Homo sapiens: one gene and its partners. The protein of the gene in region 2 interacts with the protein of the main gene of each other region in a pairwise test. Each region holds a gene or a part of one and is shown on either strand. Other genes may lie near its edges. The genes, in order: RBM41, MIPOL1, ANKRD23 and PKN1.

Region 1 (7,020 bases), on a different chromosome or scaffold from region 2:
AATTCATATGCCTAATATTTAACATATATTAGACACTTAATCAATGTTTATTGCTATGAATTCAATGATACTCAATGGTTGCTAGCTTAAATGGCTGTGAGAACACCAACATTTTGATCTAAAATATTTCACTAGAAAAATATATAGCTTTTTGAAGACTGATAACTTGTGGAGGAAGCATTCATTAAATAAGTCAACTGACTTATGAAACTACCTACTATTACTGCTGATAGTTCTGACTTAATAGCATTTGTTGATGCTTAGGCCTGGGGGTCCTACTCTTTTATTTACTAGGTGGATGAAATATGGCAAATGGGCTCTAGTAAAGAAATATTTCAACATTTAATTAGTTTTTTATTTCTGTGTATACGAAGCAGTCTAAGAAAGAATGTTATCTCTAGAGACAAATATTGAGGACCCCAGAAAAATTATAAAGATTTTTAAAAATCCTTAGGAATAATCCGTTGTAATTCATCCTGAGAAAATAATACTCTTTGCACTTTACCCTTCATACTCAGCATATCATCTGTCCTATATAGTCTTCAATTATATAATAGAAAATGTTTTCTACCAGTTCTCTCCAAAAGCTGAAATTACTTTTTTCCCCTCCCTCAGTTAGTTTTTCCTCTTCAACTCCAAACAAACTGGTGTCTATACATAAATCCTAGATCCAAGATTCCAATTCAAGAAAGACCATCCAGGACCCACAATTTATATATATTCTAGCTACCACTAATTTCTGTAGTGCTACCTGTAGCACATGATATGAGAGAAGTCGCTTGGAGATTTGACCGTTGCTTTTTGTTCTTTCCAAACTCTATCACCAATATTTTCCCATGTAGTTTGTATCCATTTACTAGATGCAATGCTTGCCATGCTATCTCCTTATCTAAAAGAGAAAGAAAAAATTTCAATTTACATAGGACTTAATAATTCAATTCTATTCCAGGTTTAGTTTAGATTATTTTGCCTTGGAGTTAAATGTAAGCTATAAGGCCATATAGTCATTTGATTTGATCATTTTTTCTATAATCTCCCATTTGCATTATTAAGCAAAATTAAATTAATGGCAAAAATAATAACAATAAAAACTCAAAATCGGTGTTTGAGGGTGTCTCCTAATTCAAAGAAACAAGTAGAGAAACAAAGACATAGGCAGCGTGCTAAAGAAGTCTAAGCTATTAGTAATTATACACAAGTCTCTATCTTAGGTAACAGATTATAGGTATTATTAGAATCAATCATTTTCAAAATGAGTAACACAAAAGAAGTTATCATGTTATCAAGGGCACTTTGCCACTTTTTTTTCAGTGGGAGAGTGGTTCTGGGCCACCTTATTGGGATAAATAAGTATAAGAACACTTGTAGGCATATTGAAGGTTGAAATGTGAGAATATATACTACATGCCAGGAGTATTCAACTTATGGGTCTAAGAGCCTGGATGTAAGAAATAAGGAAGGGATGATTTGTGGCCAGGAGTTTGTGGAATCCTAAGTAGACAAGTAGACTAAACCAATTTTGTTTCATATATATAAGTACTACAAATTTTTTTAAGTGTATAGCTTTCAAGATTAGTAAAACAGCTACACATTTTAAAGTACTTGCTTTAAAAAGCCTTTTTATTATGTATTTTTTCAACTAATACATCGTATTATGTGGGGCACCCATAAACGGTTTTTTAAATTTAAAAGGGGTTCTTACACTTGAAAAGACTGAAAACCACTGGTATAGCGGATTTAAAAACCTTCAGTATGATAGGAAAGATGATACAAGACTGTATGAAAACAATGGAGGGGAGTTTGGCAGTATTCATGTGTAAAACCACTTGCCCACATATAGATTAATAGGCTATTTAGAAATGACGATACTTTAGGGACAATGAAAGGTACAGATCCTACAAAGCCTTCCCCCAAAACAACATATTATCTGGTCTGTCATAGAAACTGAAATTTGCATATTATTCTTCCAGTTGGATTAGAAGCTATGCATTAATTAATATGCAAATAATATTTAGAAGACTGTATCATCATCTACTAATTATGAATTAGTAATAAATTAGTATATTAGCTTGCTCTCACTTAGTCCTAAAGGAACAGCGCATAAGCCAAGTACATGTGTTCTGATCAGAATACTAATACATTAATTAATGAGTAATCTAATTATAACTTGGACTAGAAATACTATTGTCAGTGAAGGGAGTACAGATTTTGGTAGGGTAAGAAGGAAGTACCAAGACTGGGAAAAACTGAGGACACTGGGGTAGTGTGGCCATGCACTGTCAATGGAGGAGAGGAAACAGAAAGAAACACTGAAAACATATTTTTCGTTCATTGTCTTGTTCTCACATGCTGTGGAGAAATCAAAGGACTATATCTAAATTAGAGAGGTTATAGGTAATCTCTAGCGAACTGAGGGGCAACTGAGTAATCATCTGGATGAAACTACTTACTGGGAAAGGTGATAAAAGCCTGGCCCCTCATTCGTCCAGTCATCATTCGGAATTGAATTGGAGGTCCTTTTTTCTCCTGGAACCGAGCGAACAATGACACAAGATCTCTTTCAGTCACCCGAGGGCTAAGGTTCTTCAGGTATAATACCTAAAACAAATTGAGGATCAACCAAAATATCATATAAAGGAGGTAAGGCACTCTTTGTTTTTTTCTTTTTGAGACAAAGTCTCACTCTGTCACCCAGGCTGGAGTGCAGTGGCGCAATCTCTGCTCACTGCAACCTTGGCCTCCCAGGCTCAAGTGATTCTCATGCCTCAGCCTCCCGAGTAGCTGGGATTACAGTCATGTGCCACCACACCTGGCTAATTTTTGTATTTTTAGTAGACGTGGGGTTTCACCATGTTGTCCAGGCTGGTCTTGAACTCCCAAACTCAGGTGATCCACCCGCCTTGGCCTCCCAAAATGCTGGGATTACAGGCGTGAGACACCATGCTCAGCCGTAAGAAAACTCTTTCATTATGATTAGAATTAGTTTCACATAAAAATGGTGGATTGAACACATTCATTTAATTTCATTCCATCCAGAAAACTCTCTAAAACTATAGGCACTTAAAAAAAAAAAAAAAAAAACACAAATCAACAAGGTCAGGAGGAACAAGAAAAGGAGACAACAGCAATAATAATCTGGAAGATGAAAAATAATTGGATGAGCAGGAACCAACTCAGCACACTGAAGAAAGCTGAATTTTAAACTGGTAGTGGAGAGAGCCAAGAACACACCTGTCACCACTTAAGAATCCTTAAATAGTTCAGGAACTGATAATTTCACTTACCTTCAGAAATAAATGTGAAGGGATGGGGTTAAAATAAGGCAAATCAGTTGAAGGCTGTCTAAAAGCCAATATGATTTTTAAATACCCTCCCTCACAATATGCTATGGGGTAAAAGATAACTTGCCAATCCTGGTAGAAAACTTGAGGCTCATTGTCAGAAGATGGGGAATGCCATACATGGCTGAAGATGTGAACACTGTTTCTGAAAGCAAGGAAACTAAGAGAATACTAAATGTTGAGGTCCTCCCAGTCCTTTTCTGCCATTTGGCTCCTAGAACGCTGGTAGTACCCTCGTAAGAAAGATTTTGGAAGTCTTCTCTGGGAAAACTGGTAAGTCCTAGGAGGAAAGATATAAAAATACTGACTTGGGATGAGGAATTTCTCTAACAAATGACCCAGCCAGACCACTTTAAAGTGAAGCTCAAAGTCAACAAGTGCCATTTGTGTGCTCAGAGATTCCAATCTGCTTTTTAGTTCCTACTTATAAAGTTGGGCATGGATTATCAGGCATCTTAGGAACTCCTCTAATGTGAAAGAGAGAACACAACAAACATAAAGAAAAGAAAGGAAATAGGAAAAAACTTCAACAAACCATAACTAATATCCTCAGGAAAATAAGAGAAATTATTCTACCTATTAGGCGGCACGGGAGGGTAGGTGCGGTGGCTCACTCCTGTAATCCCAGTGCTTTGGGAGGCTGAGATGAGAGGATCGCTTGAGTCCAGGAGTTTGAGATCAGTCTGGGCAACACAGTGAGACCCTGTCTCTGCAAAAGAGACAGGGTGGCATGTGCTACTTGTGAGCAAACAGCATGCACCACCACAACTGGCCAATTTTACAAGTCCCAGCTATTTGGGAGGCTGAGGCAGGAGGATTACTGGAGCTCAGGAGTTTGAGGCTGTAGTGAACTATGATCACACTACACCACCACACTCCAGCCTGGGCAACAGAGTGAGACCCTGTCTCAAAAAAAAAAAAAAATTCAACAGAACAAAAATGAGCTCTTATATGTGATTGAACGTAAGATGTTATCAGCTTAAAACAGATTGTTTTACCATGCCCTATACCTATAAAAGATAAACAGAGAAAAATGGGAAAGATATCAAAGTATATCACTACAAAAAAAAAAAAAAACCCAATGAACCACAAAGGAAGACGGCAGAGAGGGAGAGACAAAAGAGCTACAACAGAGACAGAAAACAATTAACAAATGGCAATAGTAAGTCCTTTGCTAGCAATAATTACATTAAATATTAATAAACTCCCCAAGAGACAGAGTACCTGAATGGATAAACAAAATCCAACTATATGCTAGCTATTCTATGAGGCCAGGATTACCCTGAGACCAACCTAGACAAAAACATTATAAGAAAAATACAGACCAATATCCTTAATAAACAGATGTAAAAATCCTCAACAAAATATTACCAAACCAAATTCAACAGCACATTAAAAAGCTCATACACCTTGACTAAGGGAGATTTATCCCTGGGATGCAAGGATGATTCAACATACAAAAATTGATCAATGTAATACAACACATTAACAGAACAAAATATAAAAATTACATGATTATCTCAACAGTTGCAGACAAAGCATTTGACAAAATTCAACACTGTTTCATGATGAAGACACTCAACTACTAATAGAAGGAATTTACCTCAACATAATAAAGGCCATATATGTAAAGTCCACAGCTATAATATTCAGTATTAAAAAACTGAAAGCTTTTCCTCTAAGATCAGGAACAAGGCATGGATACCTACTCTCACTTCTATTCAACATAGTACTGGAAGTTCTAGCCATAGCAAATAGGCAAGAAACAGAAATAAAATGCATCCAAATCAGAAAGAAAGAAGTAAAATTATCTCTGTTCACAGTTGAAATGATCATCCATGTAGAAAACGCTAAAGACTCAACAACAACAAAAAATTAGACATCAGTAGAATGGGGAAAAGCTGAAAGCTTTTCCTCTAAGAACTGGCAAAAGACAACAATGCTCACTCTCACCACTCTTATTCAACACAGTAGTGAAAGTCTTAGCCAGAGCAATTAGACAAAGGAAAGACATAAAAGGCATCCAAAGCAAAAAGGAGGAAGTCAAATTGTCCCTGTTTGCAGACAACATGATCTTATATAGAGAAAAACCTAAAAAAAAACCTGAAAGAGTCTACCAAAAAGCCCTTAGAACAGATACACAAATTCCATACAGTTGCAGGATACAAAATCAACACACAAAAATCAGTAGCGTTTCTACACACGAACAGCAAACTAGCTGAAAAAGAAATCAAGAAAGCAATCTCATTTACAATAGCTACAAAAAGCAAAATAAAATACCTAGAAATAAATTAACCAAGGAGGTAAAAGGCCTCTACAAGAAAAACTACAAAACACTGATGAAAGAAAAGTTTAGAGGATACAAACAGAAAGATATTCCATGCTCATGGACTGAAAGAACATTGTTAAAATGACCATACTATCCAAAGCAACCTACAGAATTAATGCAATCCCTATCAAAATACCAATGACACTCTTCATAGAAAAAGAAAAAAAATCTTAAAATTTTTATGAAACCACAAAAGACTCTGAAGCCACAGCAATCCTGAACAAAAATAACAAAGCTGGAGGAACTGCACTACCAGACTTCAAAATGTACTACAAAACTGTAGTAACCAAAACAGCATGGTACTGACATAAAAAGAGACACATGTAACTGTGGAACAGAATAGGGAACTCAGAAACTGACCCATGTATCTACAGCCAACTAATATTTTAATAAAGACACCAAGAACATCAGTTGGGAAAAGACAGTCTCGTCAATAAGTGGTGCTGAGAAAACTGGATACCTATATGCATGAAGAATGAAACCAGACCCCCATCTCTCATCCTATACAAAAATCAACTCAAAACAGATCAAAGACCTAAACGTAAGACCGGAAACTAAAAAACTACTAGGAAAAAACATAGGGGAAACATTTCAGGACACTGGTCTGGGAAAAGATTTCATGAATAAGACCTCAAAAGCACAGGCAACGAAAGCAAAAATAAACAAACGGGATTATATTAAACTAAAATCTTCTGCACATCAAAGGAAACAACAGAGTGAAAAGACGAACTACAGAATGGGAGAAAATATTTGCAAACTACTCACCCAACAGGGGATTAATATCCAGACTATACAAGGAATTCAACATCTTAACAGCATCAAAACAAACAACCTGATTTAAAAATGGGCAAATGATCTAAACAGCTATTTCTCTAAAGAAGACATACAAATTGCCAACAAATATATGAAAAAATACTCAACATCACTAATCATCAGGAAAATGCAAATCAAAACCACAATGAGGCATCATCTCATTCCAGTTAGGATGGCTACTACTGGAAAGACAAAAGTTAACAAATGCTGGTGAGGATGTGGAGAAAAGCAAATTATTACAGACTGTTGGTGGGACTGTAAACTTTTACAGCCACTATGGGAAACAGTACGGAGGTTCCTCAACAAACTACAAATAGAACTACCATACGATCCAGCAATCCCACTACTGAGAATTTATCCAAAGGAAAGGAAATCAGTATATTGAAAAGACAATGGCATTCTCATATTTATTGCAGCACTATTCACAACAGCCAAGATATGAAGTTAACCTAGGTGCCCAACGATGTGGTATATATACACAGTGGAATACTATTCAGCCATAAAAATATTGAAATCCTGTTATTCAGAGCAATGTGG
Region 2 (7,135 bases):
AGCCTGGGTGACAGAGGTACACCTTGTCTCAAAAAAAAAAAAAAAAAAAATACACACACACACACACACACACACACACACACACACACACACACACACATAGATAGATATAGTATTATGGATCTATATTTCTCTAATATAGCCCATCTCAGTTACTGATTTCACATCCAACCAATTGGCAAAAAATTGAACAAACATTTTTCAATAGAGCAGGGGTTAGTACGCTATGGCCCACAACTCAAATCCAGCCAGAGGACTGTGTTAAAAAAAAAAAAAAAAAAAAAAACTAACTGGGAAACCATTAGGTTGAGACAGCTCCAGCACTTTGGGTTCCTATGTAAACAAACCAAAACCCAACTCAATGTAAACAGTAAAACTAAACTTGAGTTTAATCAATCAGAAACCACCAAACAACTTCTAACTAGAGACATTCCACTGTTACCAATCAAATATTTTCTGTTTCCATAAACACCTTATAAAAGTTTTCCCCTCACACCCTCTTGGTGGAGTCTTGAATAACTTGTGGTCTGGTGATACCCAATTTATGAAATTGCTGAATGCTCATATAAACTCTAAAATTTCCATGTGCCTAAAGTTATCTTTTAACAACTGTTTTTGTATAACCCATGAGCTAAGAATTGTTTTTACATATTTAAAGGGTTGGGAACAAAGTAAAGAGGAAAAAAACAGAAAAGAATGTGTAACAGAGACTGTACAGCCTGTACAACCTAAAATACAGGTAGTCCGAGCTTCACACATTACTTGGTTAGCTGAAACTCTACAAAGCGAGGGCTGCCTACACTTATTGTCTGGTCCCTTACAGAAATAGAGGATATCCAAATGCCAGTAAACACATGAATATGTGTTCAATACCATCAGTCATTAGGGAAATTATGGGAAAACCCCAATGTTATGTCACTATATTCCTACTAGAATGGCTAAAATGAAAAAGACAGTGTGAAATGTTGCAAGCATTTGGAGGAACCAGAATTCTCAAGCTGCCACTGAAGTATAAATTGACACAATATGAAAAACTTTTCAGTAGTGTATACCACAAACACACATCTGCCTATCCTGTAACACAGTAATTTTCTAGTAGGCATATACGCAATAAAAATGTACATATGGCCAGGCGCGATGGTTCACACCTGTAATCCCAGCACTCTGGGATGCTGAGGCAGGTGGATCAGCTGAGGTCAGGAGTTTGAGACCAGCCTGACCAACAAGGTGAAACCCCGTCTTTACTAAAAATACAAAACTTAGCCAGGCGTGGTGGTAGGCACCTGTAGTCCCAGCTACTCGGGAGGCTGAGACAGGAGAATTGCTTGATCCCGGGAGGCGGAGGTTGCAGTAAGCCGAGATCGCGCCACTGCACTCCAGCCTTGGCGGCAGAGCGAGACTCCATCTCAAAAAAAAGAAGAAAAAAAAAAGTATACATAATTTCATCAAAATATTTCTAAAAATCTTTATAGCAGCCCTATTGGTAATAGCCAAAAACTAGAAATACTATACATACAGCATGAGAATAACAAACTGCTACATAACTTGAATAAATCTCACAAATAAAATATTGAGCAAAAATCAGAAACTAAGGACTAAATACCATATTACTCCATTTATATAAAGTAAATAATAGGTGAAATTCATTGATAATGTTGGAAGTCCAGATAATGATTACCTTTGGAACCATGAAGTGGGGCTTCCGGGATGCAATAATGCTCTTTCCTGATCTAGATACTGGATACATGGGTATTTACACTTTGTGAAAATTCACCGAGCTGTACACTTACGATTCATGCACTTTTCTGTATGTCTTTATACTTTAAATATTAACGCAATAAAAATATCTCTATAAACTCTACTCCTTTGAAGGAAAATTGTATACATCTCCCATTCATTTTGCTGATTGCCATCATTACCTCCCATCAATGACATGTCTTGATTCCTATTCCTCACATTAAAAATTAAACTGTTTTAATTAATTTTATTGGCATACGATTGCATAGAATGATTATGTAATTGTCATTTTAGATGAACTCCATACCAGATCACAAGGAAAAACTTTGAAACGCCAATAATTTGTGATAGTATATTCAAGTTATCTGGGGAAGAAAAGAACACCTCCTTGAAATGTAGTTTTGTTTGGCCCTTTGTTTTGGCTTATTTCTATCTACTACCACTGTGATTTAACCTGCATAAAATGCTCAAAGGAGCTTTTCCAAACGCGTGTGTTTGTGGAAAGTTGTTCCTTTCTACCATCCTTGTCTAATAATGCGGCTGTCTTGTTCCCTCCATCCATAGAGCTTAAAATGCTTCCCAAACGTTGCACCAGGTCCAGGGACATTGTGAATCAAAAAAGAAAAAAAAAAATTCTAACAGTATCTTTTTACAGCATGGCTTAGCGCGCTTAAAGAAGCCCCTCATTCTTCGCCCACACTTCCACGTGTGAGAAATGAAATATAAAACGACTCTCTCATGGGCACAGAGTCGATCAGAGGTTGAGCGAGGACTGGAACCTTCTGACTAACCGCGACTTAAGGGGAAAAAAACAAAAAAAATACACCCTTGAATAAATGCTCAGCTGCTCAGGTCCAGTATTAGGAAACTGGAGACAATACCAAAACCATACCCAGAAAGAGCTGTCTGCCACCTGAGGACCCCACGACACTGACCTTCGAGAGAGCCCCATCACTCCCGGCCACGCGGGGTCAGCATTCACTAAGTACAGATTCCGCGGGGCCCCTTCTCCTTCTCCAAGGAAAAGTCTGCGGCCGAAAACTCCAGGGCTGATCTGTGCCCACCACTATCATTCTCCGTCGCCCAAACCTCCCTGCCCAACCGTTTACCTGAGATGCGCCTGGCATAGACCGGGGAGTCGACACTGCGCGCTTGCCGAGTTTCTCAGGCCGAGTGCGCAGCCACCGCGTCAGCCAATCGCCACTGGCTCAGAGCCTCCTGGCTCGAGACTCACCCACAGACGATCCGGCGGAGGAGCGGGGCGGCGCGTGGGGCCTACGGGGCGGCGGCGCGCCGCAGGGGAGAGCGCAAGCGGCGAGCACCGGGCATGCGCGTGCCGCGCTGCCGGGCCGCGAGGCGGGGCCTCCAGGAGAAAGAGAGAGCTTGGGAAGAAGGCCCGGGAGGAGTTTGGAGAGAAAGTAGTCGAACTTAGTCTGCTGCGGTGGTTGCCCTAACGGGATGCTTATGGTTGTCGAATCCAAGACGACGAGCGCAGAACGCTCTTTCTCTTCTGAAAGAGCAAAACGTTGTCTGGACAAAACCTAATAGGATTAGAAGAGGGAGAACGCGGAACTAAAAACGGTGTCTTGTGGCCTCATACTTGGCCTCGTCGAGTTTTCCCAAGACCTGTCGAAATTGTGCTTTCCTTCTTTGTGTGTGGTTTGGGATGAGAGGTGGGAGGGACGTGTTTCGAAGCGGCGGTCAAGTGAAAATGGCACCAGATCGGGCTCCGGTTGAGTGAGCAAAAGTACTATCTAGATCCTGGCCAAAGAACGTTTCACACTAAAACCTTGGAGCTGGTGACTTTTTTTTTTTTTTTTTTTTTTGACTGAAGTGCTGGATGAGATTACGATATGTGAATCCTCTAAGAAAAAATGTTAAACCTTACAGAATTTAAAAATGTCCAAAGTTTTCAATTGGCCTACCTCCGTGAACTAAGAATGGTATAATTAACTGCTAGTAATTTAAATTTGGGTTTTTTGTTCCATAGTTCAGAATTGGTTTTATAAATGTCACTTTAACTCCTGTTACTCATGATTCCTTCAGACACCAAATACTTAGTGACCACATACCATGTGCCAGGTACTCTTCTGGGTGCTGAGTAATAAGCAATAATATTTTTTAATACACCCCAGAGAATAGGCATAATATGAGGTGCTGACGGGTTCCTAAATTTGTGGTTAAAGTTAATGAAAGGAACTTATCCTTTAGTAAGTGTACAAAAGAGAGTTTAAAAAACTGAAAAAGGCCGGGCGCGGTGGCTTACGCCTGTAGTCCCAACACTTTGGAAGGCTGAGGCAGTGGGATCGCTTGAGCCCAGGAGTTCGAGACCAGCCTGGACAACATGGCGAGACCTTGACTTTATTAAAAATCAAAAAAATTAGCTGGGCATGATGGTGCATACCCGTAGTCCCAGCTACTAGGGAGGATGAGGTGGGAGAATCGCTTGAGCCCCAGAGGTGGAGACTGAAATAAGCTACGATGGCTGGCGCCACTGCACCCCAGCCTGGGGGACAGAGCATGACGCTGTGAAAACTAACAAAATGGAAAAGTTGGACGTAGATTAACTTGGAACAACAGAGGTTATAATATTCACCAAATTTTCGTTATGTATGCTGTAATGAACAGTGTTCTCAAGAAGTTTGTTACAGATTCAGCTTTGAAATGCTTTTTTCTTTTTTGCTTTACTTCAGTCAGGATTTGAATCATATTTATGAACATAAAGTACCATAAAAATCTATGAGACAAAAACAAAGAGTGTACAGTTTATCAGAGCAAATACTCCAATCAGGAAGTATATAGCTTGTGCAAAGGCTTAGGGCCAAATCAAATTATGTGTAAAACAAAGGAAAAAGTTGATTTTCCTGGCTAGGAAATAATAAATAAAACAGGATAGTGACTACCACAATGAGAACATTCAAACCATGTAATGAATTAGTAGAATAAATTTAGAGAAAAATTATAATATTTTTCATTGAGTAAAGTTCATTTCCTCCTTTTTTTAAAGCCCATTATCTGGGTGCTTACAGTCTCTGGCATAAAGAGAAACCTCATATTTTCTTTCCTTTTAGTAAGCTGATTTTCTCTCTCTCTCTCTCTGTTTTATGCAGTGAGTTCAAACATTAGGACTAATTCTCCCTATTCTTTTTCCTTTTTCCCTAACATACCTGAAGTAACTCATTAATGTTCTTTCCCTAAACTTTTGATACCACAACAGGTAAGTTTTCCCCTACTCCCCTCCACCACCACCATAACCAACATATCCATTTCTTCATTTTCTATTGTTCTAACAGTTGCCTGTCTATAAGAAATGAAAGAGATAAATTAGAGCTTTTTTCTTTTCTCAAAATGATTATCAAAGATATTGTCTATGTCCTCATACCTCATACAAGCTGGACTTTTACAGAAATATGGATGAAGATGAGAAGAAGAAAATGAACCACTCTTTCGTTACAGGGAGAAAAAGAATGTCATATTATTAATATTATCAAGTCTGTTAATGTCAGATCATTAATATTCTCAAGTCTATAAATATTAGGCTTCTGCAGTGTGTCACACACTGATCAGTTCTGCAAATAAAATAATGAATAACAATTAGGCACACAAGTAGCTGAGAATACCATATGTATTAATCAGGGTTCTCCAGAGAAACAGAACAAACAGGATATGTGTGTATACACAGAGACTACATAGAGAGAGGGACAGTGATTTATTGTAAGGAAATGGCTCATGCAGTTGTGGACTTTTAGTGAGTCCAAAATCTGAGGGAAGAGGCGGGCAAGCCTCAGAAAAGAATTGTAGTTGGACATACATGGAATGTAATCTGTTGTATTCAAAGTCTGGTGATTTAAATGGTAATCTCATCAAAAAAACACCTTCACAGAAGCATCCAGGATAACGTTTCACCAAATATCTGTGCACCATGGCCCAGCCAAGTTGACAAAATTAACCATCACACTGTGTAAACTGAGAAATGGCTTTGGGAGAGGGGAGTTCAGGGGATGAGGAAGACAGAGTCAGGAAAATCTGAAGGAGATAATGCCTCCTGTAGTATGAATAAGACTTAGCAAGGTGAAGAGGTGAGGGTGGAGGTGCAGAGAAAACAGAATTCCTTATAAAGGAATCAATATGGGAGTGAGATACTGTAAGGAGCTATAAGCAATTTAATATCACAGTATAAAATTTAACATGGAAAGTGGTGGGAAATGAAGTTGGAGAGATTATGAAAGGTCTTTTTTAAAAATAGAGTTGGGGACTCACTATGTTGCTGGGGCTGGTATCAAAGTCCTGGCCTCAAGCAGTCCTCCCACTTTGGCCTCCCAAAGTGCTCGGATTACATGCATGAGTCACCATGCCAGGCAATATAAATGATCTCCTAATTAAGTACCTTGGACTTGATTCTATAGTCAATGAATTTTGAAAGTTAAAACAGGAGTGATGAGATTAGATTTACACTTTCATTCATCAATTTAGAAATACGTTTCAGAATCAAAATTCTCAAGTTTGCAAGACTAGTTAATCTAATTGAAAAACGATAAAAAGGCTGGGCTCTGTGGCTCATGCCTGTAACCCCAGCACTTTGGGAGGCTGAGGTGGGTGGATCACTTGAGGCTAGGAGTTGGAGACCACCCTATCCAACATGGTGGGACCTCCCCCCACCGTCTCTACTAAAAATACAAAAAATAGCCAGGCATGGTGGCACATGTCTGTAATCCCAGCTACTCAGGAAGCTGAAGCATGAGAATCACTTGAACCAGGAGGTGGAGGTTGCAGTGAGCTGAGATTGTACCACTGCACTCTAGCCTGGGTGACAGAGTTAGACCCTGTCTCAAAAAATAAATAAATAAATAAATAAATAATAAAATGTATGTGGTAAAGCACGATAGATGGAAAAGGGTAGCTTGAAGAAGTAGGAAATAGTTTGCAAAATCTGGTAAATAACTAGTTGAGAAAGAGGAAAGTGTTGATGGTATTAAAGAAATTGGTGAATAAGTAAGTTCAGTTTTGATAGAATGAGTTTGAATTGCTAGGGAAGCATCTTAGAGTAGCTTTCCAGCAGTCATATGCAAGGAAGCATTCTAGACTGGGCTAGACATGAGATTAATGAACATAGATATGATGGATAAAGCTATTTTTTAAATTTTCAAGTCAGTCTCATAGCACTTTGCTTGACTACAGTAATCCTTTTAAAGGATATGAGGATCCTTTAGCTACTACCTGTCTAAAGGATCATGATTCATTTTTTAATAGGCTTTTTTCATACACTTTAAGTTCTAGGGTACATGTGCACAACGTACAGATTGGTTACATCGGTATACATGTGCCATGTTGGTTTGCTGCACCCATCAACTTGTCATTAATATTAGGTATTTCTCCTAATGCTATCCCTCCCCCAGCC
Region 3 (7,680 bases), on a different chromosome or scaffold from region 2:
CGTGCCACCACACTTGGCTAATTTTTGTATTTTTAGTAGAGATGGGGTTTCACCATGTCAGGCTGGTCTTGAACTCTTGACCTTGTGATCCGCCTGCCTTGGCCTCCCAAAGTGCTGAGATTACAGGCGTGAGCCACTGCGCCCAGAGAGGCCTCTTTTTTAGAAGGAAGAACCACTGAAAGTGGAACAAGAGAGAGCAGAGCCCAGTGGGGGGGTATGCCCTTTGATTCCAGCCTTTCTCTCCACAGGCTGCTGAGAGGGGTCACGGGGACATCTGCTCCCTCCTCCTGCAACACAGCCCAGCCCTGAAGGCCATCCGGGACCGAAAGGCACGGCTAGCATGTGACCTGCTGCCTTGCAACAGTGACCTGCGGGACCTGCTATCCAGCTGAGCCGCCACCCTATCTCCAGCTGCCTTTAAAGGGTACACAGACCAGTTCTCCAAGCCCCTGCCTTGGTCAGCATCCATGCTGCTGGGCAGGGAACTGAGGCCAGACCACCCAGGAAGAGCCCCAGTCTGGTCACTGTGGAAGCGAGGGAGTAGATTTGGTGTGGCTAAAAGTGTTTAAGACTGGACAGATGATCATATTCTAAATTAGTTCATATGAGACATCTATTTATTTGGAAAAAAATAAAGTTATATCCTTACCTCATCCCACACCCAAAGATAAATTGCAAGATTAAAGATCTAAATATAAAAACACAAAACTATGTAAGTATTAGAAGAAAGTAGGGACTATGTGAGAAGCTGCTTTCTAGCTGAATGCCCTTGGTAAAAGTCACTTTAGCTGTCTGCCCCTCCATTTCCTCTTCTGTAATGAGAGTGGTTATCATAGGGCCCGCCTCAGAGTCATTGTGGGAGGAGGTCAGTGTGCACTGGGAGAGCCCTCGAGAGAGTGCCTGGCACGTGGCAAGCAGCCTGAGGGAGGCCCGCTTCCCGAGCTCCTCATCAGCACTTTGCGCATACCATGATTTCATTGATTGCAACGGTCCGATGGGAGAAAAGTGCTGTTTCATCTGTTTCGTTTTTCATTGCTGGTTACTAGTGAGGTTGAGCACCTGTGTCTTCTGTGAGCTGCCTACCCATGCCGATTTTAGAAACACTTCTTATTGATTCATAGGAGTGTTGATATTCTAGATCCTGATCCTTTGTTCTATATATGTACATTTAATTTTTTCCCTTTTTTTCTTTTATGCTCTTTCTTTTATTCTTTCTTTTTTTTTTTTTTTTTTTTGAGACGCAGTCTCGCTCTGTCACCCAGGCTGGAGTGCAATGACGTGATCTCGGCTCACTGCAAGCTCCGCCTCCCAGGTTCACGCCATTCTCCTGCCTCAGCCTCCCGAGTAGCTGGGACTACAGGCACCCACCACCAGGCCCGGCTAATTTTTTGTATTTTTAGTAGAGACGGTGTTTCTCCGTGTTAGCCAGGATGGTCTCAATCTCCTGACCTCGTGATCCACCCGCCTCGGCCTCCCAAAGTGCTGTCTTTGTTTCTTGATATCCATTCATGGGAATTGGTACAGCTACTGTAGATGGCAGTTTGACAGTATCTATTTAAATTTAAATGAGCAGAACCAATAATTTGATTTCTCTGTAGCTATGTAGAGAGATGTTCTTCCATGGTTACAAAGATGTTTATTTACAGGAGCATTTACAAATATGTGCATTGGAGCATGGGGAGTAATGTTAAAAAAAAAGAGAGAACCGACTCCTCCCTGATAGGGAGTGGTTGAGTTCTGCAGATCCAAGTTCTCGGCTGCACAGCAGAGCGCAGCGTGCTGACAGGATATTGCTGCTCGTGTCCACAGTGGGACCCCCTTCACACAGAACATGCCTGTAGAATGTGATTGCCTCTCAGCCTTTTGGCTAAGATCATGTATAAATGTATGGATCTATACGTGGATGTAGGCCAGGAGCAGTGGCTCACGCCTGTAAGCCCAGCACTTTGGGAGGCCGAGGTGGGAGGATCACCTAAGGTCAGGAGTTCGAGACCATCCTGGCTAACACAGTAAAACCCTGTCTCTACTAAAAATACAAAAATTAGCCGTATGTGGTGGCAGGTGCCTCTAATCCCAGCTACTCTGGAGGCTGAGGCAGGGGAATCGCTTGAACCCGGGAGGTGGAGGTTGCAGTGAGCCGAGATCGCGCCATTGCATTCCAGCCTGGGCAACAGAGTGAGACCCTGTCTCAAAAGAAAAGAAAAACGTGGATGTGCATCCACAAAATGCACAGAGCAGAAGCAGGAGGGTGGCTGTTAAACTGCCAGCCATGGTTTCTCCTGGGCCACGTGGCAAGAGAGGTAGTCAAGGAGGTCCTGAGCCTTCTGTTTATGTTTGAACTTTTAATAAGGAATCTTTTTTCCTTTCTTGCTCAACACACTGTTTCTGGCTTGATTTTTTTTTTTAAGTCAGAGTTAATACCAGTCATATGAGACAACTAATGGGTTTTCTATTGAGAACTTCCCTGAAGCCTGGGGGTGCAAAACGCCGCTCCTCCAGTGCCACGTGCTGAGGGGTGTTTGTGAGTTGGAGTGGACAGTGGTGGCCAGTCTTACTTTTTCTTGTTTCTTTGCACTCATTTTATTTTTTTTTTTTTTGAGACCGAGTCCCGCTCTGTCATCGGGCTGGAGTGCAGTGGTGCGATTTTGGCTCACCACAACCTCTACCTCCAGGGATCAAGTGATTCTTGTGCCTCAGCCTCCCAAGTAGCTGGGACTACAGGTGCCTGGCTAATTTTTATATTTTTAGTAGAGACGGGGTTTCACCATGTTGGCCAGGCTGGTCTCGAACTCTTGACCTCAGGTGATCTGCCCACCTCAGCCTCCCAAAGTACTGGGATTACAGGTGTGAGCCACCACGCCCGGCCCCTTTGCCCTCATTTTAGATGACTCTTTCCCTCCTCATAACCAAAAGCAAGGAACAGGCTGGGTGTCACCTGAGGTCAGGAGTTTGAGACCAGCTTGACCAACATGGAGAAGCCCCATCTCTACTAAAAATACAAAATTAGCCAGGGTGATGGCACGTGCCTGTAACCCCAGCTACTCGGGAGGCTGAGGCAGGAGAATCACTTGAACCGGGGAGGTGGAGGTTGCGGTGAGCCAAGATCGCGCCATTGCACTCCAGCCTGGGCACCAAGAGTGAAACTCCATCTCAAAAAGAAAAAAAAAAAAAAAAGCAAGGAACACCTTTGTCTGAAAAAAGCACCCTAAATTTAGCCTAAGAACTAAGTTTTCAGCTGGGCGCGATAGCACAAGCCTGTAATCCCAGCACTCTGGGAGGCTGAGGCGGGTGAATCACAAGGTCAGGAGTTCAGGACCAGCCTGGCCAACATGGTGAAACACCGTCTCTACTAAAAATATAAAAAATTAGCTGGGCATAGTGGCAGGTGCCTGTAATCCCAGCTACTCGGGAGGCTGAGGCAGGAGAATTGCTTGAACCCGGGAGGTGGAGGTTGCAGTGAGCTGAGATCGCGCCACTGCACTCTAGCCCAGGCCACAGAGCGAGATTCCGTCTCAAAAAATTAAAAAAAAAAAGAAAACTTTTTTTTTTTTTTTTTTTTAGACGGAGTCTCACTGTTGCCGGGCCAAGAACTGAGTTTTCTAAGAAAGCTCTGCCTTTTCCTGAGTTCTCTGAAAATGTGGAAGCCCTTCCAAGAGGCCAGTTCTTTGGGAGCTGGGGAGCCATCTGGGGCCTGTGGCCATCCTTGGCCACAGTTCTCCCTCCTTGTACCCTGGTCATGTCTTCTCAGGTTGCTCCGATTTTGGGGTCTTATTTACTGGCTGATTTCCTTGCAAAGGCCAAGGCGGAGTTCAAGGTTCAGCTGGGTGAAGGGCATGCCTGGCTTCCTGAGAATTAGGAAGGGTGACTGATGGCTTGAGACACATTGCTCTGCGGCTGGATTTCATGGTTACTATTCCATCCCGGGACCTGACGCGGATCAGTCTCCCCTTTCCTGTGGCTGGAGGGGCACACTCCGTCCCTGGAGAGCGTCTGGTAGGGGCTTGTAGAGGGGCGGGGAGGACTTCCAGAGGCCCGAGGACAGGCGCCAGGCTTGGCTTCGGGGCTGGGGCAGCTGCCATGTGCTCTCAGAGCACTGAGGGAGGAGCGGGGGAGCCCGGGGGCGAGAAACCCACAGCACAGGGAAGGGAAGGGCAGCCTTGAAACTGCAAGTTGGGAGATCACGGTTTCCTCACGTGGCCACCATGAGGGCTGAGGCTGTAGGCTGGCCGCTCCTGCCCCTCCCGACCACCCCCTCAGGCTTCCAGCCTCCTTGCTCAGCCACCTAGGCTGGGCTTTCAGGTTCACAGGCAGCCGGCCCTACAACATGGAGGCCCAGGCTGGGCTTTCTTCAGGAGTGGCATCTAAACTTAGGAGAGGGGAACACGTTTCACCCGAATCTGGGCTAGCAGTGTGTTGGTTAAATGGCCCCTGAGTAGGTGTGGGGCATGGCAGAGGTGCAGGAGTGGGTGTCCGAGGATGCAGCCAACTCATCTCCAAACAGCTCCTTTTCTTTTCCCCAGTGGGCTGCATTCCCAGACTGGTATTTTAGTTGGTGTGACAGAGTCCCAGAGTCATCTGGCCCAGGGGCTTGCACCTGCGCCAGTCCTTCCCTGTCCACCCCTGCCCGTCTCCAGGCGCTCCTATAAAGGGCTGAGCAGTTCAGCTCTTCTCACTGGGGGGTGTGAGGAACAGGGGGGACCATGGACTTCATCAGCATTCAGCAGTTGGTAAGGATGTGGGACGGAGGTGGGAGGCACCCTGGGACCGGCTTGATAGGAGGAGGCTGGCTAGAGAGGGCTGGCAGCTTCTTTCTGTGGTGTGAGGGTCAAGTCTTAGGTGCAGGGAAGCATGCAGTTCTTTTATAAAAATCTGTATTTTTTGAAACGGAGTCTTGCTGTGTTGCCCAGCCTGGCCTTGAAGTCCCACGCTCAAGTGATCCTCCCACCTGGGCCTCCCAAGTAGCTGGGACTCCAGGCGTGTACCCCCACACCCGGCTGAGCGTGCGGTTCTTTCTGGTGTGTCTGCTCGGTTCTCATGTGAGGTGGTGAGGGGGTTAGGGAGCAAGAGAGGGAAGTCGAATGGGAAAGAAGACATGAAAATCCTTGAGTTCAGTGAGTTTTGCCCTGGATAGTGATGGTGAAAGAGGAACAGGAAATGGCAGGTTACTTTGGAAGATGCAAGTGTGGCTGTGGTGGTTGTAGTTCAGCTTAAGCACCATGATAGTTGTTGCTCTGGAAATGGCCAGAGGTCCTGGCTGCCTTGGGGATAGGGAAGGGTGCTCTTTCGCTCCCTGGGCAGTGAGGGAAACAGTGACTCTTAGGGATGTCGGTTTGAGTGACGAGGGGCCTGGAGGGTGTGAGGCCCAGCAAGCCCATCTGTGGGCTGCTGGCCCCAGCCTGGTGCAGCCTCTGGCGGGAGGCAAATGGCAGGGAGGTGTTAGGTTGCTAGAGTTCTTTAGAAGGAATATGGTTCTACCTGACTAGAAAGTCCTAGGATCTGTTACCCTATCATTCCACCCTGTTCTTTCCCCACAACAGGCTGATTCCTCAGTGCTCCCCAGCTCCTGAACTCCTGAGGTGGGGCCCGGTGGGAGGAAGCATGGGTGTTTGCTACGGAGGCTTTGCCCCAGGCACAGGTCCCAATAACTCATAACCTTCACAACTCCTTTAGGCAATTGCCTTAAGTGTTTGAGCTTAAATGTAGCTTCAAAAGGAGCCGAGAACTGAACCCAGGCATTTAGAATTTTACCCCGGGGGGACTTCTCTGTCCCTCTGAGCTTGGAGTCAGGTGGCAGTCAGTATGATCTGGTAGGAATCTTAACAACATGGGGGAAGCTAAGGTGTCATCTGCCCTGAGGCTACCTGGGCAAATGCCCAGCAGTATAAATAGGTTGTGGCCTCATGTCCCCCCAGCTGTGTTCCTGCTGACAGGAGCAGGGTAGGCGGGGATCCGTTGTCCCCCTGGGTGTCAGCTGATGACACAGTTGCGGAGCCTGCAGCACCCACAGGGTGAGGGAGCTTGCCAGCACTCTGGACTGCAGGAGCTTTGAGGCCGGCTCCCATCCCGGGCACCAGCCTTGTGACATCTGCCCTTATAAGACAGCTCCCTGCTACTCCACAGCTCTGTTTTCTAAGGGTTCCTCCAATTTTCCCAACTCAGTACTCATATCCTGTTCCTACAGGTAAGTGGAGAAAGAGTTGAAGGGAAAGTGTTGGGATTTGGACATGGAGTTCCTGACCCTGGAGCCTGGCCTAGTGACTGGAGGAGGGGCCCCCAAGAGGCTGTGGCCCGGGAGAAGCTGAAATTGGAAGAAGAGAAGAAGAAGAAAGTGAGAGAGGGGCGGGGGCCGGGGTTGGGGGCAGTGGCTAATCCCTGAGGCCGGCTGAGCAGTGAGGCCTGGAGGGACTCTGGTGGGGCAGCCTGAGCAGCTGGTGTCTCCTGTCGGCAGGGCAGAGAGATCTCTTGACCAGCGGCTGATGGCTGGCATGGTCTTGTCTTCTGCCCCAGCTTGAAAGATTTAACAGTACCAGATTTAATCTGGATAACCTGGCTGACTTGGAAAACTTGGTTCAAAGACGGAAAAAGCGACTGAGACACAGAGTCCCCCCCAGGAAACCTGAGCCCCTGGTTAAGGTGAGTGGGAGGTCGGGGTTAGGGCAGTGCACACACCAGGGCTCCAGTTCCAGAGGAAGGGCTTGGGGCAGAGTGGGCACTGCAGGCCAGGACCACACAGCCAGTGCCTGGGGAGCCCATTAAATCCACTCCAGAGCCCCCGCGGATGTGTCCGCCAGGGCTGCCATAACAAAGTCCCACAGCCTGGACAGCCTCAACAGCAGGCATGTGTCACCTCGCTGTCCTGGGGGCTGGAAGGCTAACAGGAAGGTGTTGGCGAGGCTGGTTCCCTCTGAGGGTGGTGAGGGAGAATCCCTTCATGCCTCTCCGGCTTCTGGTGGATGCTGGTGATCTTTGGCGTTCCTTGGCTTGTAGATGTATCACCCAACTATTGCCTTCATGTTTGCTGGGCGTTCTGCCTGTGTGCATGCCTGTGTCCATGTGTCTCCCCCAACTTTTTTTTTTTTTTTTTTTTTTTTTTTGAGACGGAGTCTCGCTCTGTTGCCCAGGCTGGAGAGCAGTGGCACGATCTCGGATTACTGCAAGCTCTGCCTCCCGGGTTCATGCCATTCTCCTGCCTCAGCCTCCCGAGTAGCTGGGACCACAGGCACCCGCCACCACGCCCGGCTAATTTTTTTTTGTATTTTTAGTAGAGATGGGGTTTCACCGTGTTAGCCAGGATGGTCTCAATCTCCTGTCCTTGTGGTCTGCCCGCCTCAGCCTCCCAAAGTGCTGGGATTACAGGCATGAGCCACCGCATCCGGCCCACGTGTCCCCTTTCATAAGGACATCAGTCACATTGGATTAGAGCCCACTTTAACACAAGTCATATTGGTGAGGGGCCCACCATACGCCGGTGTGACCTCATCTTAACTAATTACATCCTCAGTGACTCTGTTTCCAAATAAGGTCACATTCTGAGGTACCTGGGGTTAGTACTTCATACGAATCTTGGGGAGATACAAGTCAATCCATAACACACACGCTCACACACACACAGTCTATTCAATCTCCTGGCGTGGGATTAGAATAAGAAACTGCATTAGTACGAGCCAGCAGTGTTCCTTG
Region 4 (7,952 bases), on a different chromosome or scaffold from region 2:
TGTTGCCCAGGCTGGAGTGCAATGGTGCAATCTTGGCTTGCTGCAACCTCCACCTCCCGGATTCAAGCGATTCTCCTGCCTTAGCCTCCTGAGTAGCTGGGACTACAGGCACTCACCACCACACCCAGCTAATTTTTTTTGTATTTTTAGTACAGATGGGGTTTCACCATGTTGGCCAGGCTGGTCTCAAACTCCTGATCTCAGGTGATCCACCCACCTCGGCCTCCCAAAGTGCTGGGATTACAGGCTTGAGCCACCACACCTGGCCACGTCTCCCCTTTTAGCAAACAAAGTGTGGCTGGACGTGGTGGCTCATAACTGTAATCCCAGCAGTTTGGGAGGCCGAGGCGGGAGGATCACTTGAGGCCAGGAGTTCAAGACCATCCTGGGCAACACAGTGAGACTTCATCTCTGCAAAAAAAAAAAAAAAAAAAAAAAAAAAAGAATTAGCTGGGCATGGTAGTGCATGCCTGCAGTCCCAGCTACTCAAGGGGCTGAGGTGGGAGGATGACTTGAACCTGGGAGGTTGAGGCTGCGCTGCAGTGAGCTGTGATCTCACCCACTGCACTCTAGCCTGGGTGACAGAATGAGACTTTGTCTCCAAAAAAAAAAAAAAGGCCTGAACTGCAACTTTATCTCCAGTGCCACCAAATTCCCCAGTGGGTCTCTGTAAATATTCACTGAGTAAATGAATGCCTGAAGGGTGGAGCGAGAATTTGGCTGGTTTCCCCAGCTCCATCTGGGGAGGCAGCCTGGGACCTCACAGGTTGGGGAGGGAGGGCCCATCCCTGTGCAAGGTGGTTCCAGACAACCCAATCCTTCGGCCCCCATGAAACCTCACTCTGCCTTGTCCTCCTCATCTGTAGAATGGGTGGGCTGGAGAATTAGAGGGAGCTACTTCGTTTCTCAGGGAAAGGGCCATAGACATCCTGGCTTGATGATTGGGGTAAGGGACTTCTCAGCTTACTCACCTGCAAAACTGGAGCAAAAGAACTAGTTTGGGCCAAGCTTGATGGCTCATGCCTGTAATCCCAGCATTTCAGGAGGCCAATGCAGAAGAATTGCTTGAGCCCAGGAGTTCAAGACCAGATTGGGCAATATTACGAGATCCAGTATCTACACACACACAAAAAAATTTTTTGAAAAAACTAGCCAGACATGGTGGTGCACACCTGTGGTCCCAGCTACCTGGGAGGCTGAGGCAGGAGGATCGTTTAAACCTGCAAGGTGGAAGCTGCAGTGAGCTGCGATGGCGCCACTGCACCCCAGCCTGAGTGACAGAGTGAGACCCTGTCTCTAAATAAATAAATATCAGGCTGGGCGCGGTGGCTCACACCTGTAATCCCAGCACTCTGGGAGGCCAAGGTGGGCAGATCACCTGAGGTCAGGAGTTCGAGACCAGCCTGCCCAATGTAGAGAAACCCCATGTCTGCTAAAAATACAAAATTAGCCGGGTGTGGTGGTACATGCCTGTAATTCCAGCTACTCAGGAGGCTAAGGCTGGGAATTGCTTGAATCAGGGAGGCAGAGGTTGCGTTCAGTTGAGATCGTGCCATCACACTTCAGCCTGGGCAACGAGAGCGAAATTCTGTCTAAACAAACAAACAAACAAATAAATAAATAAATATGAAAGAACTAGCTTGCAGAGTTTTTTTTTGTTTTTTTTTTTTTTTTTTTTTTGAGAGGGAGTCTCGCTCTGTCCCCCAGGCTGGAGTCTCGCTCTGTCCCCCAGGCTGGAGTGCAGTGGCGTGATCTCAGCTCACTGCAACCTCTGCCTCCCAGGTTTACGCCATTCTCCTGCCTCAGCCTCCCGAGTAGCTGGGACTACAGGCGCCCGCCACCACGCCCGGCTAATTTTTTGTATTTTTAGTAGAGATGGGGTTTCATCGTGTTAGACAGGATGGTCTCGATCTCCTGACCTCGTGATCTGCTCGTCTGGGCCTCCCAAAGTGCTGGGGTGACAGGCGTGAGCCACCATGCCTGGCCATGAGTTCTTTTCTTTTCTCTTTTCTTTTTCTCCCTTCCCCTCCCTCCCTTCCTTCCTCTCTCTCTCTCTCTCTCTCTCTCTCTCTCTTTCTTTCTTTCTGACAGTCTTGCTCTATCACCCAGGGGGGTGTGCAGGGGTGCGATCTTGGCTCACTGCAACCTCCGCCTCCCAGGTTCAAACCATTCTCCTGCCTCAGTCTCTCAAGTAGCTGAATATACAGATGCCCGCCAGCACACCTGGCTAATTTTTTAATTTTTAGTAGAGATGGGGTTTCACCATGTTGGCCAGGCTGGTCTCGAATTCCTGGCCTCAAGTGATTCACCCCCCTTGACCTCCTAAATTGCTGGGATTACAGGTGGGAGCCACTGCGCCCAGCCACAGAGTTCTTTCTTTTATTCAATCAACAAGCATTTGAGAAACAGTTAGAAGGCTCATGTGGCTGGAAGGAGTGAGCAAGGGGGAGAGATGGGAGGAAGTAAGAACTGATGGTGCAGAGCTTCGTGGGCTGTGGGGAGGACCTGAGTTTTTTCCCTGAGTGAGCTGGGAGCCATGGAGGGTTCTAGACAGAGGAGGGGCATACCCCATCTCATGTGTTCACTGCTCCCTTGGGCTGTTGTGGGAACAGACTGTGGGGGCGAGGGCAAAACCAGGAGACCAGGAGAGAGGTGACTACTGGTTAAGGTGAGTGATGGTAGGGACTGGATGCGACAAAGTGGAAAGGTGAAATGTGGGTGAATTCTGGGCTTGTGTGTGTGTTGTTGTTGTTTTCTTTCTCTTTTTTTTTTTTTTTTTGAGAGGGAGTCTCGCTCTGTCGCCCAGGCTGGAGTGCAGTGGCGCGATCTCGGCACACTGCAAGCTCCGCCTCCTGGGTTCATGCCATTCTCCTGCCTCAGCCTCCCTAGTAGCTGGGACTACAGGCGCCCGCCGCTTTCACCATGTTAGCCAGGATGGTCTCAATCTCCTGACCTCGTGATCCGCCTGCCTCTGCTTCCCAAAGTGCTGGGATTACAGGCGTGAGCCACCACACCTGGCCCCCTCTTTTTTCTTTTTTTAGATGGAATCTTGCTCTGTCGCTCAGGCTGGAGTGCAATGGCACGATCTCGGCTCACTGCAATCTCCGCCTCTTGGGTTCAAGCTATTCTCCTGCCTCAGCCACCCGAGTAGCTGGGATTACAGGCATGCGCCACCACGTTCAGCTAATTTTATATTTTTTAGCAGAGATGGGTTTCACCATATTGGCTAGGCTGGTCTCGAACTCCTGACCTCCAGTGATCCATCCACCACCCACCTTGGCTTCCTAAAGGGCTGGGATTACAGGGGTGAGCCACTGCACCCAGCCGTTTTTTTTTTTCTTTCTTTTTTTAGACAGGGTCTCGCTCTGTCACCCAGGCTGGAGTGCAGGGGCATCATGATTTCTCCCCACAGTGATGCATTCTCGGCCTCTTGAGCTCAAGCGATCCTCCCGCCTCAGCCTCCTGGTAGCTGGGACTACAGGCGTGCGCCACCATGCCCGGCTGGATGGGTTCTGGATCAGCATAATTCTCCTCCTTCTCTCTTTCTGTTGTTAGTATCTCCCAAAGAGTTGCTCAGAGGAAAAAATAAGAGAGAAAACATCGCGCCCTGGTTTCTGGGACGACTGAAACCACGCAGAGCCACGGGTAACCAAGGTACCCGCAGCCCACGGCGCTTCCTCGGGTCCCAAAGGGCGCCAATGTGCAGGCACCGCCGCCAGGGAGCGCTCCCTGCCGGAGCCCCGGAGACCAAGGTTTGGCTCCCTCGCCTGGTTTCCGAAGGAGTGAGGGTCCGACGGCGGCCACGAACAAAGCTGCACGCTCTGCAGACCCCGGAGATCCCCTAGAAATTCCGCAGAGGCCTCCACTCTCCGCTTGGGCACGAGTCTGCATTTATGGAGCGCCATCTGCATGCAGCAGCCCCGAAAAAGAAGGCGATGCCCATTTTATAGCGGGGAAAACTGAGACTCAGAGGCCACAGGGGTCCCCAGGATGAACAGCAAGTTGGGATTCAAACCTCTTTTAATAACAATAACGATAATAGAGGCTGGGCGCGGTGGCTCAGGCCTGTGTAATCTCAGCACTTTAGGAGACCGAGGCGGGCGGATCACCTGAGATCAGGAGTTCGAGGCCAGCCTGGCCAATATGATGAAACCCCGTCTCTACTAAAAATACAAAAATTAGCCGGGTATGGTGGTGGGCACCTGTAATCCCAGCTACTCAGGAGGCTGAGGCAGAAGAATCACTTGAATCCGGGAGGCGGAGGTTGCAGTGAGCCGAGATCGCGCCACTGCACTCCAGCATGGGCAACAGAGCGAAACTCCGTCCAAAAATAGCAAAACAACAAACAAACAATTACGATAACATTAAAAGTGACAGCAGCTAACACTTATGGAGCGTCTAGTGTGTTCTCAGCTCTTGGCCTGCACTGTCTTATTGAATTTTACCAACACCGAGGAGGTGAGCGCATCATTCCCATTTCACAGATGAGGTGCCTGGAAGGGTTTGTCTCCCTCAAGGCGTAAAGCGCTAGGATTTGAATGCAGATCCGCCCAGAGCTTGTCTCCAGGTAACGGGGAAACTTCCATGCCCTTGAATAGGGGACCACAGATGCAGGCGTCCCGAGCTTGCAAATGCACCGGGGTAGGGTGGGGTGGGGGGTTATTCTGTTTGTTTTTTTCAGGGGTCCCGGGAGGCCCAAAGGCCTCCGCCGCTCTCGGCTTGAACGCGTGGAACCGTTCTCCTCGGGTTCCCGCGCGCTCCAATGGGGGACCCCTCGGCAGCGTGCGGTCGTCTCGGGACCCGGAAAGAGGAAAGGTGGGGAGCCGATGGGGATGCTCCGGGCTCGGGAGACCGAGGGGGCGGACGGGCGGGACCCCGCAGCCCCGGGGGCCTCTGGGAACCCGTCCCCCCTCGGCCCCGCCCCCTCCCCGGGCGCCGACCTCCGGGGTCACGTGACCAGGCCCGGCGGCCGCTGGGGCCGGAGGGCGCGGCGCGGGGACGCGGCGGCCTGGCCAGGCGAGGCGGGAGCCGAGCAGGCCGGAGCGGGCCGCGCGCCGGGGAGGGTCGCGCCGCGCCCGCCCCCTCCCCGCCACGCCCGGGGCGCACGCGCGCTCCTCTGGCCGCCCCTCCCTCCGCGCGGGGACCCCTGGCGGGCGGCAGGAGGACATGGCCAGCGACGCCGTGCAGGTAGGCGCACCTGCGTCTGGAGTCCCGGGGCGACCGGACGGCGCCGGCGGACCCCGCCCGCGCGCTGCCGGGGGAGCCCCCCCAGCCCCCGGAACGGGACTCGGGTGACGATGGCAAGGGCGGGGGCCTCCGGAGCGCCCGGCGCCCCCTCCCTGGGCCGGGACTGTGGAGCCAGCGAGGCCCCCTTCTCGGCAGGTGGCGATGTGGACTGGGCTGGTTTGGGGGCGATCCCGGAGGCAACCCCTGCTACACCCTCAAACTCGGCCTCTCCTGGAGAACTAGAAGGGGCGCGGCGGAGGCTCTACTTCGGGTGTCTGTGGCTGGCTGGGCGTCCCAGTGCCTCTCGTCCGCCCCCAAACTCATCCCCCTCCCCAGGGTTGGGTACCCGGCAGGTGCCGCTCCACCTGGGGCACGTGCCTGGCGCAGTGCCCTGGGAGGGGAGGAGGCTGCTGGGCCCGGCCCGTGCCCTTCCCCCGCATAACAAAGCTCCAGCCACCCCCGCCTCTAGACAGCTTTATGATGTTCCAGACGCCACCCAGATTGGCACCTGTTGGCGGAAGTACCCGAGTCACTGCATTAGGTCGGGGGAATGGGGACCCCCACTCCCACCCTTGGGCTGTCAGGTGGAACCTTCTCCTGGGTGGGGAGTGTCTCAGTCAACAGGCCAGGGATGCTCCCATATATAGAATCCTACTTTTTTGCATGGTGGCTGGGCATGGCTGGGTCACCCCCACCCTGCTAACACACACACGTGACTGGCACCAGCCTCCCGCCCAGCCAGATTCCCCTTGTGCCACCTGGTGGGGATCACTGACCTGGACTCATCTTCCCCGTCTGTGACAAGCACGGCCAGGGTGACTGCCAACCTTCTTTGGTTCAAGTGACCCAAATCTGAGAAATGTCTGTGCCTCAGTGTCCCCATTAGCACCTCACCATCCAGTTCATTGTCCTGTGGTTGTTGTGTAACTGGGTTCTCGTCTCCTTCTGCACCTGCCCCCGGCCCCTTTGTGTCTCCCCGGTAACCCCCGGTCCCTCCCGCCTTCCCAGTCCTGCTGATGGCCTGCCGGCCTTGCCGAGGAGCTGGGCGTATCTGGTGTTGCCGATCACACAAGGTCAGACCTCAAGGCCGGGATGGGCCGGGGTCCCTGCCTCTACCCCCGGCCCAGGGAGGGCTGTGTAGGAATCCCCGGGTGCATGCATGCGCTTGGCGCATCCCACACATGACCCAGACAGGCTGTGATTCCTGCAACGAGGCTGGACCCACGCCCTGGTCCCCCCTTCCCATCTCCTCCCCAGTCTCTTCCCCGCTCCTGGTCATCCCTCTCTCATGGTTGCTTGGGCCTGCTGCCCTGTCCCTCTGTCTGTCCCAACGTGTGCCTGTCTGTTCTGTGTCCTGCAAACGGATGTCCTGTCCAGATTCCGGAAACGCCCAAGGCATTGAAATCTCCGGATGTGGGAGTCTAGGTCCCTGGCTGCTCTGGCAAGATGGGGATTATGGGAGGCAGGTCCTCTGGGTCTGAGGTCTCCGCTCCATGGTGGGCAGCGGAGGAGCAGGGGTTCTCCATAGGACAGGCCAGGCCAGGGCCCTGAGTCCTGGGTTTGCCTTGCTGGCCCTCAGGTGACCCCTGTGCCTTGGGTAGAAGTGAGTCACTCAGGGGAGGAGAACCCAGGAGCCCAGCCTCCCTCCCTCTGTGCATTACAGACCTCAGCTGCTGGAGGTGGGGCTGAGGGAGGCCACCTCTCCTCTCTGCCTGGACTTCCCCAGTTGAGCTGGCCCCGCTCTTGGCTGTGTCCTCCCTCTGCCTGCTGGGGATGGGGTGGGGCCTTCTGAGCGAGGGTGGTATTTGGTGAGCCTGGGCTTAAATTCCAGCGCTGACACTTCCTCGCTGTGTGTCCTGGGCCCAGTGCCTTCGCCTCTCTGAGCCTCGGTTCTGACCTAGGAAAAATGGGACTAAGAGGGTGTTCATGGGAGAGAGAGAGACCGAGACCTTGCCAGCACTTGGCAGGCAGGGCTGCTGTGAAGTCGTTACTGGTAAGCGTCCTGGTCAGCAGCTCAGGGTGTGAATCTGTGTCCTTATTGATTGATTTACTGATTTATATTTATTTATTTTAGAGGAGAGAGTCTTGCTCTGTCACCCAGGCTGGAGTACAGTGGTGCGATCCTATGTCACCGCAGCCTCGATTTCCAATTTCCGGGGCTCAAGTGATCTTCCTGCCTCAGCCTCCCAAGTAGCTGGGACAAAAGGCACAGACCAACATGCCTGGCTAATTTCCTTTTACTTTTGTAGAGACAGGGTCTCGCTCTGTTACCCAGGCTGGAATGCAGTGACGAGATTCTTGTTCACTGCAGCCTCAAACACCTGATCTACAGGACTACAGGCATGCACCACCACACCTGGCTAATTTTTTTTTCTTTATTTTTTTAAATTGAGACTGGGGTCTCACTCTGTCACCCAGGCTGGAGTGCAGCGGCATGATCTCTGCCTCCTAGACTCAAGCCGTTCTCCCACCCCAGCCTCCTGAGTAGCTGGGACTACAGGTGCACACCACCACGCCTGGCTAATTTTTGTATTTTTAGTAGAGTCAGGGTTTCGCCATGTTGCCCAGGCTGGTCTTGAAATCTTGAGCTCAAAGTAACCTGCCCGCCTAGGCCTCCCAAAGTGCTGGGATTACAGGTGTGAGCCACTGCCCCCAGCCTTTCTTTTTTTCTTTTCCTTTTTTTTTTGTGATGGAGTCTCGCTCTGTCGCCTAGGCTAGAGTGCAGT

The links.
Region 1: the proteins of MIPOL1 (region 2) and RBM41 interact in binary tests that used the Homo sapiens proteins (3 or more experiments, as listed by UniProt).
Region 3: the proteins of MIPOL1 (region 2) and ANKRD23 interact in binary tests that used the Homo sapiens proteins (3 or more experiments, as listed by UniProt).
Region 4: the proteins of MIPOL1 (region 2) and PKN1 interact in binary tests that used the Homo sapiens proteins (3 or more experiments, as listed by UniProt).

Annotation. Positions count from the first base shown.
Region 1 is NC_000023.11:107,066,805-107,073,824, forward strand, and holds part of RBM41 (RNA-binding protein 41), read right to left. Parts: intron 3,622-7,020; coding exon of another isoform or gene 3,386-3,621; exon of another isoform or gene 2,599-3,385; coding exon 2,451-2,598; intron 890-2,450; coding exon 723-889; 3' UTR 12-722; coding exon of another isoform or gene 4-11; 3' UTR 1-3. UniProt on the Homo sapiens protein: May bind RNA.
Region 2 is NC_000014.9:37,193,816-37,200,950, reverse strand, and holds the start of MIPOL1 (mirror-image polydactyly gene 1 protein), read right to left. Parts: upstream 3,015-7,135; 5' UTR 2,847-3,014; intron 1-2,846.
Region 3 is NC_000002.12:96,841,013-96,848,692, reverse strand, and holds the start of ANKRD23 (ankyrin repeat domain-containing protein 23), read left to right. Parts: upstream 1-4,671; 5' UTR 4,672-4,700; coding exon 4,701-4,727; intron 4,728-6,181; coding exon 6,182-6,328; intron 6,329-6,507; coding exon 6,508-6,633; intron 6,634-7,680. Other genes in the region: ANKRD39 (ankyrin repeat domain-containing protein 39), read left to right, coding at 249-392. UniProt on the Homo sapiens protein: May be involved in the energy metabolism. Could be a molecular link between myofibrillar stretch-induced signaling pathways and muscle gene expression.
Region 4 is NC_000019.10:14,428,356-14,436,307, forward strand, and holds the start of PKN1 (serine/threonine-protein kinase N1), read left to right. Parts: upstream 1-4,950; 5' UTR 4,951-5,166; coding exon 5,167-5,187; intron 5,188-7,952. UniProt on the Homo sapiens protein: PKC-related serine/threonine-protein kinase involved in various processes such as regulation of the intermediate filaments of the actin cytoskeleton, cell migration, tumor cell invasion and transcription regulation.